Regions from separate parts of the Homo sapiens genome. Here regions 1, 3 and 4 are each linked to region 2. The links come from fine-mapping of genetic effects on gene expression. A gene starts in region 2. Each other region holds a variant in brackets. All regions are shown on one strand. Distances are between the middles of the regions.

Region 1 (5,152 bases), 33 kb after region 2:
AAACTGGATCATACATGTGTTGGTACAAGGAGGAAATGGGCTTGAAGTTTTGTTTTCATAAAAAAATTGGTCAGTTTAAATGATGGTTATTTGGGATTGTTATTGGAATACGGGCATTTTGAGATTCTAGACCTTATTTTTATTTATTTTTTTAACCTTTCTAGATCCCAAAAGGATAATCACTTACAATGAAGCCATGGATAGTCCAGATCAATGAAGGACCAGACTGCCTATTCGTAACCTTTCTGCAGCATTAGAGCCATCGTTCATGGGGGACACAAGGCTTTTATGCTCCTAGATCTTCAACGCAGCAGAGGAACCATAAGTAGAATCACAGGATAATATATACAAATATATATATATACATATATATATATATAGTTATTTAAAAAAGGCAACTGAAAGTAATTAGACTTCTTAAGGAATCAAATTTATTTCAAGAGACTACACATGGTTATTTAATCTCCGGTACTGAATAGGTTTTTTTTCTTCTGTTAGTTTTTGTTTTTAAGTGTGAATGCAAGTGATTAATGAATACAGACTTAACAAGTGTGGTTCTAAAGTTCCTGCTGTCATCAACTTGGGCAACAAATGACCCACTGGAAAGGCAAATCCACTTAAAAGATCTCTGTATCTTGTTCTGTGACTGAAGTGATACACTAATCACGGGGAACCCAGAATGATTCAACATTTTCCCCCCACTCCTCCCTTGATCTTTTTGGTTTTACTTTAATTAAGCCCTGCGAGAATGCTGGATAAATGCCTTGAAGTTAGCAGGGTGTATTTTTTTAGCGAATATGATTTGCATGTCTTGCCAGGAGTTAAGCGGCCTCTGGGGTGTTGGGGAAATACTTTATTTCTTTCCATTTATTTTTTGTGGGGCGGGGATAGGGGAGGGCATTGAAGTTCTACAATTCTGGAATAGTTAGTTGATGGTACATAGTTAACTTGGCTTCGGTTACATATTGGACTTTAACAACTGAAGAATCTATGCGTGTCATTTAAAGAAAAGTTGCAGAACAAGCAATTGGCTTAGATATACAATCTGGAAAAATATTCCTGTGCCCATATTTTAATGTAATTGTATAACTGGGAGCAAAAATATATTCTGCTTTTCAACTGTAGGTGCTCCAGACTTGCTCTCCGTCACTAACACTAAATGTGCTGTTTTCCTTGTTTTTCATCAAACATTTAAGACAAACTTAGACCTTTCTGTAAATTATCTTTTAATTTCTCAGCAAAATCTAAAAGGGGAAGAAAAAAGTCCATGAAAACTAAAACTTTTCATGTTTTTAGCCAGTGAGAAGATAATAAACCCTGACTGTAGAAGGTGTGTTTTCATGCAAACTATACTTCTGAGCTTGTTAGCTTCTAATTATATCTTAATAAATATATTTTATTACTAGAGCAAGATGGGTTTTTAAGGAAAATAATGTGAAATTCTGGAAATTTTCTTTGGGGCAGAGAAGAGCATTAGCCCTGTCTTATCATTACATTGCCATCCTGTTGCACTGCAGCTTGTGTATAGCATGCTAAAATAAATTTTTGTGTGTGTGTGCAGAAATTAAGGGTCCAATTGAGATTGGGTGATGTTAGTAACATAATAACAAGTTGTCTGGCCTGACACAGCATCACATCACACACACAGAAATTAGTATATCCATGTATGTCAAATACAGGTTAAAATATCAGGGCATTTATATAAAGAGTTGTAGTCTTCTGATAAAAGTAGACTGGATCCCCTGGGGTATTTGGGGAGAAAGTAACTACTTTGGCTCTACCCCTAGAAATGTCCAGTTTTGAGTGACTGTAGTATGGATGGGTTTTCTTGTTTTGTTGATTATTTGAGGCTTTTAAAACAAGTAGTTCATGAAAGAAGCTGTTGGACTCAACATAGAGTAGAGTAACTATCTTTTTAGTCTGGATTTCTGCCCTGCTTAGATTTTAAAAGTATAAGCATGGATTGCCAATTCCACTTGATGTAAACAAAACTTTTTTTTATACATAATATATATATATATATATAAAATAACTTATTGTATCAGTCCAGGTTCAGAAACTTGTGGTAGGCCAGTTCCAGATAGTTTCATTTCACCTGTAAACTGTATCACTTTGACTGATATTGTAATTTTCAAATGTATAATATGTTTACAGATGTGCCCTGCATTTAGTCTGCCTTGTTCCTATTTTGATTTTTGTTGAGTCTCCTGCCTGCTTGCCAAAAGCTAGGATGCTTCAGGCCCATGTACAATTGAAAGCAGAGGCATCCTTGAGCTTTAAAGCATTGAACAAACTGGAAAATGCAACATACCACATAACTGAAGTGAAAAAAGTCTGTGTTTTTGTGTTTTTTTAAATAAAAATTTTCAAAAAGTTAAAAAAAAAGACATATAAGGTTGATTAAAGGGAAAAAAGGCTCCAGTTTGTTTTACAGGTTTTAAAGTTCTGCTGTGTGTTCAATTGCCTTGTGTAACCACTTGTCGCCTTAGGGCCAGATTCCCCTCTCTAGTCCCCTTTTTTAAATGTCCATTTTGCTTGCCTGGAATTTTAAAGTTCTTCCGTCTCACAACTCACAAGAAACTTTCTGGGTTTGTGACATACAGAGGTTGAATTGAGTATATATTTGAAAAGGAAAAAACAAAAAACAAACCCAGACCCCACCTGAATTGGGCTTTTTAACTTAGAAGCAACACTTGATTAAACATCTTTAGAAAGCTATTGCTTTTCTAATTTCCTTCCATATCCCTCAGGCCTCAGTGTTCAGAGAAGCCAAAAAGAATGTATCACTTCTCTGTCTGTCCAAAGGTTTTTGAGAGTCTCACTTCTAAATGAAACAATGCAACATTTCACTTTGATTTCTCCACTGAAATTTCCTTGATTATATGGTTAGAGGTATGTAGTTAGGAATGTCTGTTAACTTTCTGAGAACCCTAGTGCCCCATCATATTAACTGTCAGTATTTTGGGG[G/T]CATTAGGTTAATAGACTTAATTGCCTAGGTACAAGCAGGACTTTGGGACAAATCTCTTTGTGCTGTTTGGTAACACTTAACTCTATTTGTTGCAATCTTTCTCCTTAGGTCCTCACACAATTCCTTACAGAGCACTTATTAAAAAAAAATCTTAAGAGTTGATCTGTTTTCTGATTATTTTGTGTAAGCTTCTAAACAAACTTCAGCTGTGATTAATTTAGCACATTTAAATAACGTGTTATTGTTTGGTATAAAGAATTTTCCTTCAACTCAGAGTATTAGTACTGTAGCATAAACCAAATACAGTCTAGAGGGGATTTTTAACATCCCTCCATTATAAAGACTGAAAAAGGGGTGTGTGTGTGTGTGTGTGTTTATGTATGTATGTATGTGTGTGTGAGGAAAAGATGGAGATATTAAAAATTAGTAAATGAATGTGTATAAGACATTAGTATTCAGAGAATGAACTTGTATTTATTTTGTGCCATTTGTTTTCATTACACAGAAAAAAGTCAGGTGGTTTAAATCCTTAAAAGGGTAGTATTGAAAAATGGCACTAAGAATGAAATTATGACCTATTTTTTTAATAGCTATGAAGATACTAATTATGGGTGAAGATTTCTTTTTAAATCTGTTTTGATTATTGTAGGCTTCTGTGTCACATACCACTCTTGTAGGTGTCCTCAATAATCCCCTTTTCCCACAAAATACACAGGGTGTATTATCTTTCTCTTTATTCACCCCCACTTTGCTGAACTGAAGTTAATTACATAGCCTTTCTTCTAACCTCCTTAGTAATGAACCTTCACATAAAGTGTATTTACAGCGTCTGTGGTAGCCAGCCCTTCCTCCTCTACTTTCTAGGAGGGGATAGCCAATAACTAGGAATTTAATGACAGATTTTTTTTTCTTTGAAATAAATGGCCAGAGTTTCTCCATTTTAGAATTTTGTTGTCCTCCTTAATCATCTGCTTACCTAGTCATTACTCAATCTGCAGAAACTTCATAAAGGAAAAGTGCTGCATTGTTTTTACAAATAACAGTTTGTAGGGAAAATATGACAAACCTCAACTATGGGAGTTGTCCACAATACAAAATTTTGAAAAAACATTACATAGTGATAATATCATACTTGGTTGTTAGGCTTGTTGCTTCCCCACATCAGAGGCATCTAATGATTTATCTTTTGTAATTGCTGTGAACTTTTTTAAATAAGCCATTTAGTGTGAAATTGTCATGTATCAAATGGCTATTGGAAATGGACTTTACTCAATTTTAATTCCACTGTAAATAAGGACGGAGTCATTCCTACAAGGCTCTCTTCAGAGAAATAGATTAAAAGTCCAATTTCCAGGTATTATTAGTATAGTTATGCCGCTGGGCCACATCCTCAACAACAGCTGATCCCTCTTGTATAAATATGTTAACTGTGCAGAACAGTTATGTTATGGGACAAATATAATGGTCATTATGGTCAGATTGGTTGATGCCACACCAGTCAAGGTAGAGTCTGATAGGGCAGTATCTTAATAACCCTACCCATGACTTAACTGTTGGATTTGAAAGGAAAACGTAGGATTTGCTCTTGTCCCCTTACCCGCCACAAAATTTTGATAATTTGTTTAAAAGGGAGAGGCAGAGGAAAAGACTAGAAGCATAAATAGCTGCTTTAGGTTTGCCAGAGGCACATAGCTTAACATTAGTTCTTAATATCGATGTTATTTTTACTAATGTAATTAATCAACAGAGCACCAAGATTCTTTCATGGTGAAAAGGGTGGGCTTCTGTTTTGGTATCTTAAAATGTTTCTTTTAAAATATACATCACCTGTGTGAGAACCAGGACCACCTGGGAGAGTGATGAATCATTGGCTCCACTCAAAAGCATTGCTTTACTGAGTTTTAAATTTCACACTGTTTTGCCGCTCAAGAAAGGTCTTAAAGTAGTTAAAGGATGCCAGCAATAGTGCGAATAGAATTTTCGGTTGTCTGCATAATAAAAACACCCATTGCAGCATGATTGGTATGTTGCTCTTGCATTATTGGGAATGGTAAATCAGTTATGGGCTAGAAACTATGGAATGGCCGTCCTCATATGTGATGGGATTGCTGATTCAGACTTCCCTATTTTCCATACAATTTTGTTATGTGCAGAGTTCTAAAGCCATTTTATAATACTGCAGTA
Region 2 (5,152 bases):
GGTTTCACCATGTTGGCCAGGACGGTCTCGATCTCCTGACCTCGTGATCCGCCTGCCTTGGCCTCCCAAAGTGCTGGGTTTACAGGAGTGTGCCACCACGCCCGGCTAAGGGCATTATTATAATGGAATATTTCACATTCTTGGCAAATCCCAATTATATTTTATATAAAACAACTTCAGAAAAATCAAGAAGAAAAAAGGTCTGTGTTTTACTGTTGTATTTCCATTCTTATTTTTAAAATTCGTGTTCAAGATTATGATTCTAATGTATACAAGAATGTAATATTCTGCTTTTTTTCTTACATTATATCATAAGCCTTTCTTCATACTACTGCATACTACTAAGGCAACATTCATAGTAACTAGAGCATCTGAGAATAAGATTTAGTTTATTAAACTCAGTCAGTACAACTGTAAGTGAAAAGCTAAAGGTAGGCAAAAGTGTGATAAATCAGAAATACAGAATGAGTGCTTTTGGTTTGCCTGCAGGTATAATGTAGAAAACCTAGACAGGGAAGTTGGAACTCAGAAATTCAAGCCTTCCAACTGAATGTCTAAGTCAACAAAAAATACCAACATAATCTTAAATTGTATATATACTTTTCTTTCTTTCTTCTTCTTTTTTTTTTTTTGAGACAGGATCTCGCTCTGTTGCCCAGACTGGAGTACAGTGGCACAATCACAGCTCACTGCAGCCTCCACCTGGAGGGCTCAAGTCATCCTCCCATCTCAGCCTCCCAACTACAGGCACACACCACCATGCCAGGCTAATTTTTAAAAATTTTTGTAGAGAGAGAGTCTCTGTATGTTGCCCAGGCTGGTCTCGAACTGCTGGGTCAACTGATCTGCCATGGTCTCCCAAAGCGTTGGGATTACAGGTGTGAGCCACCACACCTGACCTGTTTTTTCTTTAATAATTGGGAACGTGGCAGAATATTATTCAGTGGTAAAGACTTATTGTGATATGATATTATTATTAGGGTTTTCATTCTCAAAATTGGGTAAATGTACCCCCAAAGAGGTTTTTCTTTAAAATTTAGCAAAGCTGGCTGGGCCTGGTGGCTCATGAATCCCAGCACTTTGGAAGGCTGAGGTGGGCAGATCACCTGAGATCAGGAGTTCGAGACCAGCCTGGCCAACATGGAGAAACCCCATCTCTATTAAAAATACAAAATTAGCCTGGCACAGTGGCGCATGCCTGTAATCCCAGCTACTCAGGAGGCTGAGGCAGGAGAATTGCTTGAACCCAGGAGGCAGAGGTTGCGGTGGGCTGAGATCATGCCATTGCACTCCAGCCTGGGCAACAAGGACAAAACTCCATCTCAAAATAAAATAAAATAAAATTTAACAAGGCAACACAAATCCTTACTGTATAGAACATGCCAAAATTTGGTCATGGTTTTCAGGATTCAATGACATTTGTTATTGGAAACCAGCTTTTACGTTTTAAATAAGCTTTTGCATTGACATTCATTAATTTCATAGCATAAACTTTTTGCTTTCAAGCTTCTTGTTCCTTTAATGTTGTCCTGTTGTAGGAATTCAAGCCACATTTTAAAAATTCAAAAACGTAACATACATTGAGGAAACAGTCCATATGTCCGTTGCTGAGTGAATGAACAAAATGTGGTATATACATATAATGGAATATTAGTCAGCCTTAAAAAAGAGGGAAATTCTGATGTATGCTACTCTGAAGACATTATGCAAAAAAGCTAGTCACAAAAAGACAAATACAGTACAATCCCACTTATATGAGGTACCTAGAATAGTCAAGTTCGTAGAGACAGAAAACAGAACAGTGGTTATCAAGGGATGGAAGGAGGAGGGAAAGGACATTTATTTTTATTGGGTATGAAGTTTCAGTTTGGAATGATGAAAAAGTTCTGGAGATAGATGATGGTCATGGTTCTACAACAATACGAATGTACCTAATGCACCTGAACCATACACTTAATATTAAGATGGTAAATTTTATATTATGAATATTTTACAATTAAAAAAATCCCCCAATCTATAACATACATTGGGAAAAGTGCATTTTATCTGTATATTCAGTTTAACAAATAATTACTAAGCAAATATATGTAATCACCACCTAGCCCCCAAAATGAAATATTATCAGAGTAACCTGTGTCCCTCCCCATCACAACCCTCTTCCTTCCTGAGTAACCACTATCATGGCTCTAACATTTGCTTTTGAAAATCATATACTGTGATGTGGTAATGCAGGATAAGTTAAATCTACACTACAAAACGCTACAGAATATTTCTTTTAATTTCAATTTTTCCATAAGTGCCAAAAAAAAAAAAAACAAACCCACTTAATAACTTTTAAGTGCTCTTTCTCCCCTTCCTTTGCTCTTGAAACTTCTCATTCTAAAACCTATTTTGGTTCCACAGTTGACCTCACCTGCAGAGTTTAATTAAAAAAAAAAAAACCTTCAGTGTAAATTTTCATTCCTCCTGCTCTCCCTTGCCTCCAACTACAAAGAAACAATGATTTAAACCCTTTGTGCCCTTTTAGAAAATTACACAGATACCCCATTGTGGAACCCTATAATCCCTTCGTGGAAAGGAAGAGATTAGCATATGAATACAAAGCAAAATGAATCCAGAATACAAAATGATCTACTGGATTGTGAAGCTCTTGTATGCTTAAAAATGTATTTATTTCCTCTTTTTGTATTGCCCCTTTAGTGGTCTCGGGGTTAAGGGAATTGAGCTTCCCTTTCTGGTTACCCGGAAAAGGATTAAAAACAAAACAAAACAAAAAACAAAAAAACACCAGATTCTAAGAGGTGCAAAGCCAGCAGATGGCTCACAGCACCAGTGGAATCGCCAGTGGAATCTGCTACCCTCGACACGAGCCTGCTTGCCGGCGAGGAGTGTAGAAAGTGCTGTTCACAGACTGCGTGGTGAAGGAGAGAAAGCGACAGAAGAGAGAGCCATAGTGCTGACGTTGAAGGCCCGGCCCTGTGAGGTTGCACAGGGTAAGTGGCGTTGGCCAGGCGGCAGCGGCGAAGGGGAAGGAAAGAGGATTTGAGCTGGGGGCGGGGCTTGCGGCACAGCGTGGCTCCTGATTGTTGGAGTGCGGCTGCCAATCTCGCAGAATCGCTCGGTTAACCAGTGCGCTGGCGAGACGCGCTCAGATATACTGAGTGAGCCCTGAGAAGCAGTCTCAGATCCTGACGGTGCAGCAGCCCGCAGCCTCAGCCAGGGAGTCCCAGCCGCTTTCAATGGAGGAGAAGCCCGGCCAGCCACAGCCTCAGCACCATCACAGCCACCACCATCCGCACCATCACCCTCAGCAGCAGCAGCAGCAGCCGCACCACCACCACCATTATTATTTCTACAACCACAGCCACAACCACCACCACCACCATCATCACCAGCAGCCTCACCAATACCTGCAGCATGGAGCCGAGGGCAGCCCCAAGGCCCAGCCAAAGCCGCTGAAACATGAGCAGAAACACACCCTCCAGCAGCACCAGGAAACGCCGAAGAAGAAAACAGGTCTGGGAGGGAGGACGGGTGGGGGAAGGGGGTTGGGGGTGGAGGACAGGAGAGATGGGGGTGGGGCTGGATCCGAAAAGCGCGGACGGGGTCGGGGTGTGTGTGTGTGTGTCCCCTCCGGCTCTGGGGATGCCCCTTTCATTCTAGAGCTCGGGCTGAGCAATGGGGTTTGCAGCGCCCTCTCCTTCCCTCCAGCATGGGAGAGGCCCAGCCAGGCCAGCGTGACCTTCCTGGCCCCGGCCCCGGCTGAAGGGAGACCTGCTGGGTCGGCCTTGCAAGTCCAACCTCATTATTCTTTTCCCATTCACCTCCCTGCGTCCCTGGAGTTACCTCAATTTGGGGGCCCTGAGATGGGGTAAACCTACCCCCCCAAAAAATCCCTCGAGGTGTAACTCAGGAAGGCCTAGCGAATCCCGACTCGGATGGTGTCGCGAGACCCTTTTGCAGGCGGCGAGGAGTGGGTAGGTAGGGTGAGTTGAGGAAGTGCCCCTCACCCGCCACCCCAAGCCCACCTGTGGCCTTGGGGCTCCCCGTCTCGGTGGGGGGGGCTGTTGGGACCCCTCATCTCACGGGTCATTTCCACCACTAAACGCCCTTTTTGGGCGCCGGACCCCGCAGTCTTGTCCCGCGGCTCCTCCCGAGGCCGGCGCCCCGCGCCCGCTCCCCCCAGAGCCGGCGCGGCTGGAATGTTCTCTCCTCCTCGCGGGGCCGCTTCCTGTCCGCCATGTTGGAAGCCGATTCCTGTCACCGACTCCGGCCCACTGAGGAGCGGAGGGGGAAGGGTGTCGAGGGCCACACGGGGCGGCGGAGCCGGGTGACCCGGGATCACCACCGGCCGCAGCCTCGCCCCCTGCACTGCGGGGGCGCCGGCGCCCCCCGCACCGCGGCCGCCCCCCCCCCCGTCGCCGGCCGGGGTTGTGTAACCCGGTGGCGGCGCGCGGCCCCGGGCGGGTCCCTGGGGTGAGGGGCGGGGGCGGTTGGGGTGGGGGAGGGAAGCGGCCACGAGGGGAGCGGCCTGCGCAGGGCCCCGCGCGCCAGCGGCCGCGTTTCCCGCTCCCGGGTGCGGCGGGAGGCGCGGGCAGTCGGGGCGGGGAGCCGGCCTCGAAGCGGAGCTGAGAGGGAAGGAGGCCGCGGGCGGCGGCCGCGGCGCTCCTAGAGGCAGGAGGCCTGGGGGGGCGGCGGGGGGATTCATTTCGGGTAGAGGCGGTGCCTGAGGCCGGGTGGGGTACCCAGCGGGAACCCAGCTCCCCGGTCACGAGTTTCTCTGCCACAGGAACCTCGTCTCCTGCCAGGTTCGCTCACGACTCCGCCTCTGAGGCTTTCACTTGGGCCTTTTCCTTCTAGCAGCTCATTTTCTACAAAAAAAAAAAAAAAATCCAAAAACCTTGTTCCATTCCCCTCCCGACCCAGCACTTACCTTCTGAGCTTGGGTAGTGTCTTTGAGGTGAGGGATTTTAAAAAATGTTAGGATGGGGAAGAGTGCGAGCTTTTTGACCCCTCTTTCTTGTCCTTAAGGGTGAACCCAAGTGGCTCATCCATGAGGTTAGACTACTACCATCTTGCCTCGGATGAGGCTTCTCTCCGTGTTAAAAAGAAAGGTGTTTTTCGTATTTTAAAATCGATATTGATCCCCAAA
Region 3 (5,152 bases), 58 kb after region 2:
CGCCTGGCTAATTTTTTGTATTTTTAGTAGAGACGGGGTTTCACCGTGGTCTCAATCTCCTGACTTCGTGATCCATCTGCCTCGGCCTCCCAAAGTGCTGGGATTACAGGCGTGAGCCACCATGCCCAGCATGAACCTTTTTTCTTTCTCCCACTATTTCACTGGTTTCTGACCCTTCCAGGAGTGGAAGGAACAAGAGAGGAAGAGGGCAGAAAATTTCTTACTTGACTGGTCCTGTGGTTAGATGGCTTCACACTACTCTGTATCTGGCAACTCTTCACAGCTGTCAGTTTTGTGGGCACTTAATGGTTCTTGGGAGAGCCCCCACCTGCAATAACTTTGATCTAGGTCTATGCATCTCCACTCTGGCTACCTGTTCCTTCTACAGCTCCTAGGTACCTGGTGGTCACCTCCAGTGTCATTCTGCTAAGGACACATCTGTGCTCCAGGTCTAAGTCGCTACAACCCCATTCCAGCTCCCTCTCAGGCATGACCTCCCTTTCATCCATGGGAAGCACTCACACATGCTTTGCCGTGGCCAATTCTGGCATGTGGGCTTGTTCTTACTCAATCAGCCTCCTTTGCTTGGCCTCATCCCTCAGCAGTTGCCCAGCCTAACTTCTGACCTTTAGATTCTAGTCTGCAGGGGACACATCTTAAGCTTTCAGAGTGGGCCCCTCGTAGCCTTCTCCTTTGCCTTGCAGTGAAGCTCCTTCACCCCTTCCCCTGAAGGGCAGTGGGATTCACAACACAGCTATCTCCCAAAATTTTCTTTCTGCCTCTGTCTCCAATTCTTTTATATTCTTGGTATAAGAAGGAAGGGTAGGCCACACACTATGGCTCATGCCTGTAATCGCAGCACTTTGGAAGGCCGAGGCGGGTGAATCACTTGAGGTCAGGAGTTGGAGACCAGCCTGGCCAACATGGTGAAACCCTGTTTCTACTAAAAATACAAAAATTAGCCAGGGCATGGTGGCACATACCTGTAATCCTAGCTACTGGGAAGGCTGAGGCAGGGGAATGGCTTGATTCTGGGGGTGGAGGTTGCAGTGAGCTGAGATCGCGCCACTGTACTCCAGCCTGGGTGACAGAGTGGACTGTGTATCAAAAAAAAAGAAAAAAAAAAAAAGAAATTTCTGCATAATGGTCTGTTGCACAACTCACTACTTTGGCTTCTAATATCTACCACTTTGGTGACTCAGCTGATTTTTCTTTTTTGTTTTTTTTAGAGACAGGACCTTGCTATCTCACCCAGGCTGAAGTGCAGTGGTGCGATCATGGCTCACTGCAGCCTCGAACTCTTGGACTTAAGTGATCCTCTCACCTCAACCTCCTGGGTAGCTAGGACTACAGGTGTGCACCACTATGCCTGGGTAATTTTTAAAAATGTTTGTGAGACAGGATCTCACTATGATGCCCAGGCTGGTCTTGAACTCCTGGTTTCAAGTGATCCTCATGCCTTGGCTTCCCAAAGTACTGGGATTACAGGTGTGAGCCACCATACCCAGCCTGAAATTTCCACAGTAACATCCTGCTCCATGTGTATGTTCCTTCACACTGTCTTCAAGCTGCTCAACGCCTAGACTCCCTTTGCTCCCAGCAGGTGACATTACAACCTATTTCATCAGGCATGGATTTCCTCAACTTTCTGCCCCTAGAACCTGCAATACCTGCAGGAGTATCTATTACCACACCCACCTCACCTCTTTATCTCCAGCCCCAGATGATCAGCACTTCCTGTCCTGGATTATACACCTTCCTACCATCTCAGGAACTTCATTTAATCAATAGCCCCTTTTTATCTAGTATTTTAAAAAGCAACTGCTATATTTTGTTAGAAAATTATGTATAACTTAAGAAGTCATATTTTCTTGTGTGATAAATATTTGGTGCATCAAAGGTATATAATATATGTATATATATTTATTTATTTTTATTTATTTTTTGTTTTTTGAGATGGAGTTTTGCTCTTGTCGCCCAGGCTGGAGTGCAATGGCACGATCTCAGCTCACTGCAACCTCTGCCTCCTGGGTTTAAGCAATTCTCCTGCCTCAGCCTCCCTAGTAGCTGGGATTACAGGTGCCCGCCACCACACCCAGCTAATTTTTGTATTTTTAGTAGAGACAGGGTTTCACCACGTTGACCAGACTAGTCTCAAACTCCTGACCTTAAGTGATCTTCCACCCGCCTCGGCCTCCCAAAGTGTTGGGATTTCAG[G/A]TGTGAGCCACCGCACCTGGCCTACATATTTTTTAAAAACCCAGCAGCTACTCTGCCCAGAGGTTACCATTTTCAACTTTTTAAGCTTTTTTTTCCTGGTATTCATCAATTTTGACATTATGTATTATAGGTTTTGGCAGATAAGATTTTATCCCTCTGGCCAGGCGTTGTGGCTCATGCCTATAATCCCAGCACTTTGGGAGGCCGTGGTGGGAGAATCACTTGAGCCCTGGAGTTTGAAACCATCCTGGGCAACATAGTGAGACCCCATCTCTACAAATAATAAAAAAAAAATTAGCTGGGCATGGTGTTTCATTCCTATAGTTCCAGCTACTCAGGAGGCTGAGGCAGGAGGATTGCTTGAACCCAGGAGGCAGAGGTTGCGTGAGCCGAGATGGCATCACTGCACTCCAGCCTGGGCAACAGAGTGAGACTCTGTTTCAAAAAAAAAAAAAAAAAAAAAAGGGCCGGGCACGGTGGCTCACACCTGTAATACCAGCACTTTAGAAGGCTGAGGTGGACGGATTACCTGAGGTTGGGAGTTCGAGACCAGCCTGACCAACATGGAGAAACCCTGTCTCTACTAAAAATATAAAAAAGTTAGCTGGGCATGGTGGCACAAGCCTGTAATCCCAGCTACTCAGGAGGCTGAGACAGGAGAATCACTTGAACCCAGGAGGTGGAGGTTGCGGTGAGCCAAGATCGCGCCATTGCACTCCAGCCTGGGCAACAAGAGCGAAACTCTTGTCTCAAAAAACAAAAAAAAAAAAAAAAAGATTTTATCCTTCTTATGGCTCTCTCCCCCTCCCCACCATCCTATGGATGTATTATAAATTTTACTTAAATCCATATTCAGCATTTCCTTGTCTATGAGTTTGTAAATATTGTTCACTGCTGACCAGGCAAAATTTAATAACATTTCCTTTCTTGAACCATGTTTTGCTTTTTCTGGAGTTAAGAAAATGCCTAATGTTTTTCATAGGTTCAGTTTCCCAGCATCTTCATTAAATACTTCTACCACAGAGTGGGGAACATCACACACCAGGGCCTGTCACACAGGGGTGGGGGGAGTAGGGAGGGACAGCATTAGGAGATATACCTAATGTAAATGACGAGTTAACAGGTGCAGCACACCAACATGGCACATGTATACATATGTAACAAACCTGCACGTTGTGCACATGTACCCTAGAACTTAAAGTATAATAATAAAAAAATGGTTAAAAAAATACTTCTAATATGATATTCTACATTTGAACCTCTCAGATCATGTCTCAGCTCCATTTTTCCCCCAGGAGACCTCCTTTCTGGAAGCCTCCCACCCCAGCCTCCCAAGTAGTTGGGACTACAGATGCATGCCACCATGCCCAGCTAATTTTTGAATTTTTTGTGGAGACAGGGATTTGCCATGCTGCTCAGGCTGGCCTCAAGCTCCTGGGCTCAAGTGATCCGCTCACCTTGGCTTCCCAAAGTGCTGGGATTACAGGTGTGAGCCACCATGCCTAGCCTGGAAGCTTCTGTTCGGTTCCAATCTGGGGAATTTTCTCCCTGTACGTAGCTACTGCCCAGAGACTTCTCTTGACTGATGTCCTGGGCATTCCCTTTGCTTGCCTTCAGCGTTGAACCCTATATCTTCCTCTTTCGTAGTTTATCCTCTTGTTTTGGTAAAGCACATTCTCTAATAGTGTCCTGAGACATGGTACATAGAGATACTTTTTTTGAGATCAGGATGTCTAAAAATGTATTTTTGTACAGCAGCATTTTATTGAAGGTTTGGCTGGATATAGAGTATGGTAACAGTACTCTACAAATTGTGAAAATACTTCCCCTTTGTCTTCTATGGGCAATGTTGCTATTGGGAAGTATGATGCTTTTTTTTTTTTTTTGAGACAGAGTTTCACTCTTGTTGCCCAGGCTGGAGTGCAATGGCGCGATCTTGGCTCACTGCAACCTCCGCCTCCCAGGTTCAAGCGATTCTCCGGCTTCAGCCTCCCGAGTAGCTGGAATTACAGGCATGAGCCACCATGCCCGGCTAATTTTGTATTTTTAGTAGAGATGGAGTTTCTCCATGTTGGTCAAGCTGGTCTCAAACTCCCAACCTCAGGTGATCCACCCGCCTCGGCCTCCCAAAGTGCTGGGATTACAGGAGTGACCCACCGCCTGGCCAGTATGATGCTATTTTGATTTCTGATTCTTTGTATAAGATTTTTTTTTCTTTCTAAAAGTTTTTGGATTTTTTTTAATCCCTAAAAATCTGAATTTCCTGAGGCTATGCTTTGGTGAAAATCTTATTTTCTTTATTTTTCCGGGCATTTAGTAGACTTTTCCAACCTTAGGAAATCTATGTTCTTCAATTCTTGGAAATATTCCTGTAATTTTTAAAAAAATCATTTTCTCACTTGTATTTAATGTGTTTTTTTGCAACTTCTATTGGTTGGATGTTGGACCTCCTGAAATGATATTCTAGTTTTCTTATATGTCTCTACTATTTTATGTTTCTTTGTCTTTTTTGTGACTTTTTTTTTTTTTTTTTAAGACAGAGTCTCACTCTGTTGCCCAGGGTGGAGTACAGTGGCGCGATCTGGATCACTGCAACCTCCACTTCCAGGCTCAAGCGATCCTCCTACCTCAGCCTCCTGAGTAGCTGGGCCCACAGGTGCACGCCACCGTGCCTGGCTAATTTTTGTATTTTTAGTAGAGATGGAGGTCTTGCCATGTTGCCCAAGCTGGTCTCAAACTCCTGGGCTCAAGTGATCCTCCTGCCTGGGCCTCCCAAAGTGCTGGGATTACAGGCATGAGCCACCGCTCTCAGCCTTTTTTTCTGACTTCTAAGAGATTTCCTTGATTTAGCTTTTAACCCCTATTAATTTCCTATTGCTGCTAAAACAAATTGCCCCATAAAAAGGGAACACTTATACACTGCTGGTGGGAATGT
Region 4 (5,152 bases), 43 kb after region 2:
GAGCAACAAGAGCAAAATAACTAAAAAAAAAAAAAAAATTCTCATCCACTTAGGTGTGATTTATGTGAAGCATGGTAGTTAATTCAGTCTACAAAGTTTTTTTTTTTTAAATGACGTTTATTGTGGATTTCAGCAGCTAACATTTGAAAGCAATGTCTGTGAGCAGAACATAAAACTTATTCTAGAGTGCTTAGCAAGGTCTCATGCTTGAGGAATTATCGTACTTGGAGCTTTTAATCAGCTACTGTTGGATTCGGCGAATCGATTGGATCTGCGAAGTCTGGGCATGAGAGCCCCACTCTCTCCAATGTTTATAGTCTCCTCCATGATGGTCACATTCCAAGATATACTGATACCCACGATATCCAGGATATTGGTAGCAAACCCAGCTAGGAAATTCAAAGTACATTTCATTATTAAAACTAATTAGGAATCTGGTTAATACCCCAAAACCTGAGCCTCTTTACTCAACACAATGGTATGAGATGCTTTTAGGCTTAGAAAAAATAGCCATCCTAAATGTGTCAGGCACTATTTGTAAGCATAATATGGCTATAGCTAGTTAATTAGCCTTAATCATCAAAACAGGTATAAGTAGTCAACGTAAATTCTTCCATAGAGGCATGTCTGGGGGAGATAAATCTGCAACCTAAAGTGGTAGTTGGTATAAAGAAATTGAGATTCAAAATTATGTAGAACTAGAATGTGACATCTATACCGATACGTATGAAATCTGATTAAAACATAACTATTGATGCAACCTCAGGAGTTACTTTGAAGTATATTCCAACCCTGTTTTTGTACTTACGCCCCACTTTGTATCTTCATGGAGCCGACTTCGTTGTTGAACCAGCCCATGGCTTGCAAGGAGGGGTAGTCGTCAGAGATCTCCCACTGGCGTCCAATAAAGTTTTCCTTCTCAAAGATGGTCATCTTAGACTCCTTATGATTCTGTAATTCAGAAATTGTTTTAAAATGTTTAGTACTAGTGCTATGGCTATCATTCTTCATGTTTTTCAAAATTGAAACACTTTTGGATTATACAAGGAAGCACATGATAATTTAAAAAGATTAAGGCAACAGATTTGTGAGAAAAAAGTTACCCATAATTTTGTTTATTCCAATTTAAATACCATAACATTTTGAATGTACAAATAACTGATATACTATTTTGGAACAATGAAGAGGATTTGACAGTGAGAAAAAGTACTAACAAAATGCAGCCAACCAAGGGATTAATATTCACTAATGTGAAAAAAGATCTCACAGATTATTACAAAAAGTAAGCCCAAATATGTATGTGTGCGCTTGCGTGTGTATGTGTGTTGTTGGATATAACCTGTATGTCCAGTAGGGGACATGAATACTACACAAGCATTAAAAAGACAGAGACTAACCTGTATGAACTTCAAAAATGGACAAAACTGTTTGGTAATAGAAAGTGGTAGGGGAGCAATTGAGTGGAAAGGGACACCAGGGAACTATGATGGAATGTTCTTTATATGGTTAGGGTGTTGGTTACATGGATCTATATATTTTTCAAAAACTCATGAGAATATTCACTTAGGGTCTGTGCATTTTACTGTATGTCAGTTATACCTTAGGGTGGGCAAATGAAATGTTTTTAAAAGTGAGATTGAAATAATTTCCAGACAGGCAACTATTTATTTGGATTAGAACTATTTAGGTTAACTTCTCCACCAGTTGAATTTTGGCAAGACTTTGAACCAAGATGAGATTATTAACCAAAATCACGAGAAACTCTCACATAGACTGAATATTTGGAAAGGTTCTAGCCCAACCTAACTCCTAATACAGGGATCATTTTCAACACACCCCTTAAGGTCATTCTGCTTTCTGCTTGAACTGTTTCCAAAGACCAGAAACATCCCAGCCTGATGCATTATTGAGTAATACTTAAGTGTTCAGAACAAGAAGATTATTATCAATCAGTGTAGATCGATACTGGAAGACTTGCCTATTTCGTCAGTCATTCCCACTTACTGAAAGGTTACTTCAGCATTTTCCTGTTTCTGCAGTAAAAATGTTACACAGATTGAAATTTAACTGGCCAAGGATTTACTTTTTGCTGCAGGGTAAGCACTTTCACTCATTTACTAGTGTTTCACAAGTTTACTGGGCTCTTGAGTATCCACTTATTGCCACTTGTAAGACCCTTAGTTTTAGCTTAAGGGAAGTACCACCTGGTGGAGAAAAATCAAATAGCAGGCTTAGAGAAGAAAGTGATGTTTTCTCTTTTTTTACTTTTGTCTTTTTTCCTGCCACATTCAGCATAACTGATGATAAATAGCATGAACGTCAGTCTGTCCACACCCTCTTGTCCCATCCCTCATATGCACGGAAGTGGAAATTTCAGAGACTCACAGCTGAACAGATGGGGCGGAAGGACATGAGACGCTCAATGTGGTAGGCATTACTCCCACTCCAGGCATCCCAGCGAGGGTATTCTCCTCTCTCCAGGATAAACTGTTGCCCACAGAAGCTGGTATGCTCATAACCAATCCAGCTGCCAAAGACATGTAGTGTTTGTTCATGGTGTTCAAAGCCTATATGGCCTTGGGGAGAAGGCATCTTTC[G/A]TTTTAGATAAGTCAATAGTGGGGTAAAATATCAAGCCAATCCCAGTAGAGCTGTACAAAGTAATTTGTCACAAGAGTTGAGGAATGAGTTGACAGGTATACTAAGCAGGTTAGTGAATGTAATATTTGTTTGGGGGTTATCACTGAAAAGGTCTATCTACTTCACTGGTCTGAGTGAAGTGTATTAGCAAAGCCAATCTAAAATTATATTTCCTGGCTGGGTGTGGTGTCTCACGCCTGTAGTTCCAACGCTTCAGGAGGCCAAGGCAAGCAGATCGCTTGAGCCCATGAGTTGGAGACCAGCCTGGGAAACATGGCGAAACCCCGTCTACAAAACTCAAAAATTAGCCAGGCGTGGTGACCCACTACTGGCAGTCCCAGCTATTCAGGGGGCTGAGGGTTGAGCCTTGGAGGTGGAGGCTGCAGTGAGCCATGATTGTGCCACTGCACTCCAGCCTGGGCAACAGAGTGACACCTTGCCTCAAAAAAAAAAAAAATTTTTTTTTCTTTTTCTCCAAATCACCTATTCTCTACCTGTTTCAGGATCTAGTGACTGTTGCAAGCTTGTCCAACCTGTTGCCCAAGGGCTGCATGCAGCTCAGGACAGCTTTGAACGCAGCCCAACACAAATTTGTAAACTTCCTCAAAACATTATGAGTTGTTTTTGTTGTTGTTAGGTCATCAGCTATCGTTATGGTATTTTATATGTGGCCCAAGACAATTCTTTCAGTGTGGCCTAGGGAAGCCAAAAAGATTAGACACCCCTGGACTATTGCTTTGGCTCAAGCCAAACCTGTTGGCTTCTTCTTAAGAAAGCACAGGGATGAACAAGCAACTGATGGATTACTAGTCTTTTTTCTTCCTGTGACTTGCGAGTTCTTTCTCCTAGTGCCCCATACCTGTACTTAAAACTTGAAACACTCAGCTCAGTTTTTCACAACTGGGTCTCAGTTAGTGATGACACCTTAAAGTGTTACATCTTTTAAAGGACTGAAGAGCTTAATTTTGGTGGCAAGCAACTTGTGGAAGCCTATCCACATGCAAGGCCAATTCTGCCTAGTCAAGGGTGAGTCTTTTCCTTAGGTATTTTCAGGCTAATGATAAAGGCCTCAACTACTCTGCCAAGAGTCAGAGGACAAAAATGAGAGGGTCTCCCTCACCAAGATTAACCATCAACAAGAAACTGCCTGAAAGATGAATCAGGAGCTAATATGTCTCTGGAGTCGTGGGGTTAAGGTTTTTTTTTTCATAAAGAAATTAGCTAACAGTGTCTGCTCTGGGATATGCAGGAGGAGAGTTAGCCATGAAGAGGCAGCCACTTGACACTTTCTTCTCTACCAATTTTCTGCAGGCAAGAAAAACTCAAGGGTCTTGTGGCTGTTCTGAGGGCACCCTAGGTAGCAGCCTGTGAGCTCCAGAAGCAAAATTTTGATTACTGCCACTGTCCCACCCCATTGTATGTATTTCTTTATCCAGCCCCTGAAATCTAGTACCAAGCCACTAAGAACCTCATGTTCCTTCCTTCTAGCTTTGGCTTACTAAATTATGCATGTAGTGATTTCTTTCGAGGCCTGTCTCCGAGAAATGACTAGAGCCTAGGGGAACATCCTTCTTCCCCTATCCCCACTCTATGGTCCCCTGTCTGAAGGGACCTGAAATAAGGGGCTGCGGTTCTGCGGAAGTCCATACTCACGCGCCACTTTCCACCTTCAGGGACCGGACATTATCAAAACTGCGCTCAGAGACATTTGGACAGGAGCTGGTGAACTCCATCCTCTTGCCCTGAAAGTTCTCCTGATCATAGATGGTTATCTGAAATGAGATTGAATGGCGCAAGAGAGCTAGAACATCAGGAAAAACAGAGGTCCAGGTCAACAGCTTAACTTCAGTCTGACTCTGTGCTTTCTGTTACCAGCTGTAGCCTGGGATGCCTGATGAGGTCTCTTCCAGTGTAGACAGGGCAGGAAGGGGTTTGAATTAATGCCACTGGTTGGTGTTCATTTGCCCAGAGTAGGGATGAGGTGGAGGGAGGATTGGTTTATGATAGAAATGGTCTGCCAGGGATAATATCTAGACCAATGGACAGGCCAAGGACTTATGGGCTCCCATTCCACCACAGTTCCTTCATAAGCATGGCCCAGAGGCCAGGATTCTGGGAGTCCCAGGAGCTCCTTATAGATTCTTAGCTTCTCCAGCCATACCCCCTATAGAAACCTAGAGTGTAAAGGAGAGTTATGGTCAACCCTTTTTGTACATTGAACTAAAACCTGGCTCGTGGACCTGGCCAGAGGACCACTCGCAAAGCTGTGAGCTGGCCTCAGAGTTGACCCAATGAGGAGAGTGGGGAGTGTTGGAGAGAGGCCAGTGAGAGGCCTGAGGATCAGCCACTTCGGCCAATGGTTAAAGCCAACCTCAGGATGGGAGGCTGAGTCCTGTAATTTATTTGGGATCTAGTAGTAAATATCTTTATGGGCCCTCATTTTCTCCATGGACATAACTGTTGCTGGGCTGCTGTATTTTAAGATGACTTTAGTGGGGAGGAGAGAGGAGTTAGG

Which allele goes with the higher level. Positions count from the first base shown, and alleles are read on the strand shown. Sizes are in standard deviations (SD) of each study's normalised expression. Not every link is listed here.
For the expression in CD4 T cells of the gene that starts at base 3,151 in region 2, allele G in region 3 goes with a lower level than allele A (moderate effect, 0.41 SD a copy in CEDAR).

Evidence for each region. PIP is the estimated chance that this variant, and not a neighbour inherited with it, causes the effect.
Region 1: its variant is fine-mapped to the expression of NUFIP2 in whole blood (TOPMed, PIP 0.99).
Region 3: its variant is fine-mapped to the expression of NUFIP2 in CD4 T cells (CEDAR, PIP 0.95).
Region 4: its variant is fine-mapped to the expression of NUFIP2 in whole blood (TOPMed, PIP 0.97).

What each region holds. Positions count from the first base shown.
Region 1 is chr17:29,259,604-29,264,755 of GRCh38, reverse strand. NUFIP2 (nuclear FMR1 interacting protein 2) reads left to right here. Exons shown (of 4, transcript NM_020772.3): 4 at 165-5,152. The coding sequence ends at 217. Among named protein-coding and RNA genes, the nearest start is that of CRYBA1, 15 kb to the right of the region's middle. The variant G/T (reference allele first, on the strand shown) is at 2,968.
Region 2 is chr17:29,292,147-29,297,298 of GRCh38, reverse strand. NUFIP2 (nuclear FMR1 interacting protein 2) reads left to right here and starts at 3,151. Exons shown (of 4, transcript NM_020772.3): 1 at 3,151-3,516. The coding sequence starts at 3,240. RefSeq lists enhancers at 2,783-2,982, 3,293-3,392, 3,086-3,846 and silencers at 3,553-3,672, 4,303-4,482.
Region 3 is chr17:29,234,061-29,239,212 of GRCh38, reverse strand. No RefSeq gene overlaps it. Among named protein-coding and RNA genes, the nearest start is that of CRYBA1, 10 kb to the left of the region's middle. The variant G/A (reference allele first, on the strand shown) is at 2,218.
Region 4 is chr17:29,249,439-29,254,590 of GRCh38, reverse strand. It overlaps CRYBA1 (crystallin beta A1), which reads right to left. Exons shown (of 6, transcript NM_005208.5): 3 at 4,291-4,409; 4 at 2,386-2,527; 5 at 809-951; 6 at 97-389. The coding sequence ends at 242. Among named protein-coding and RNA genes, the nearest start is that of CRYBA1, 5.2 kb to the right of the region's middle. The variant G/A (reference allele first, on the strand shown) is at 2,598.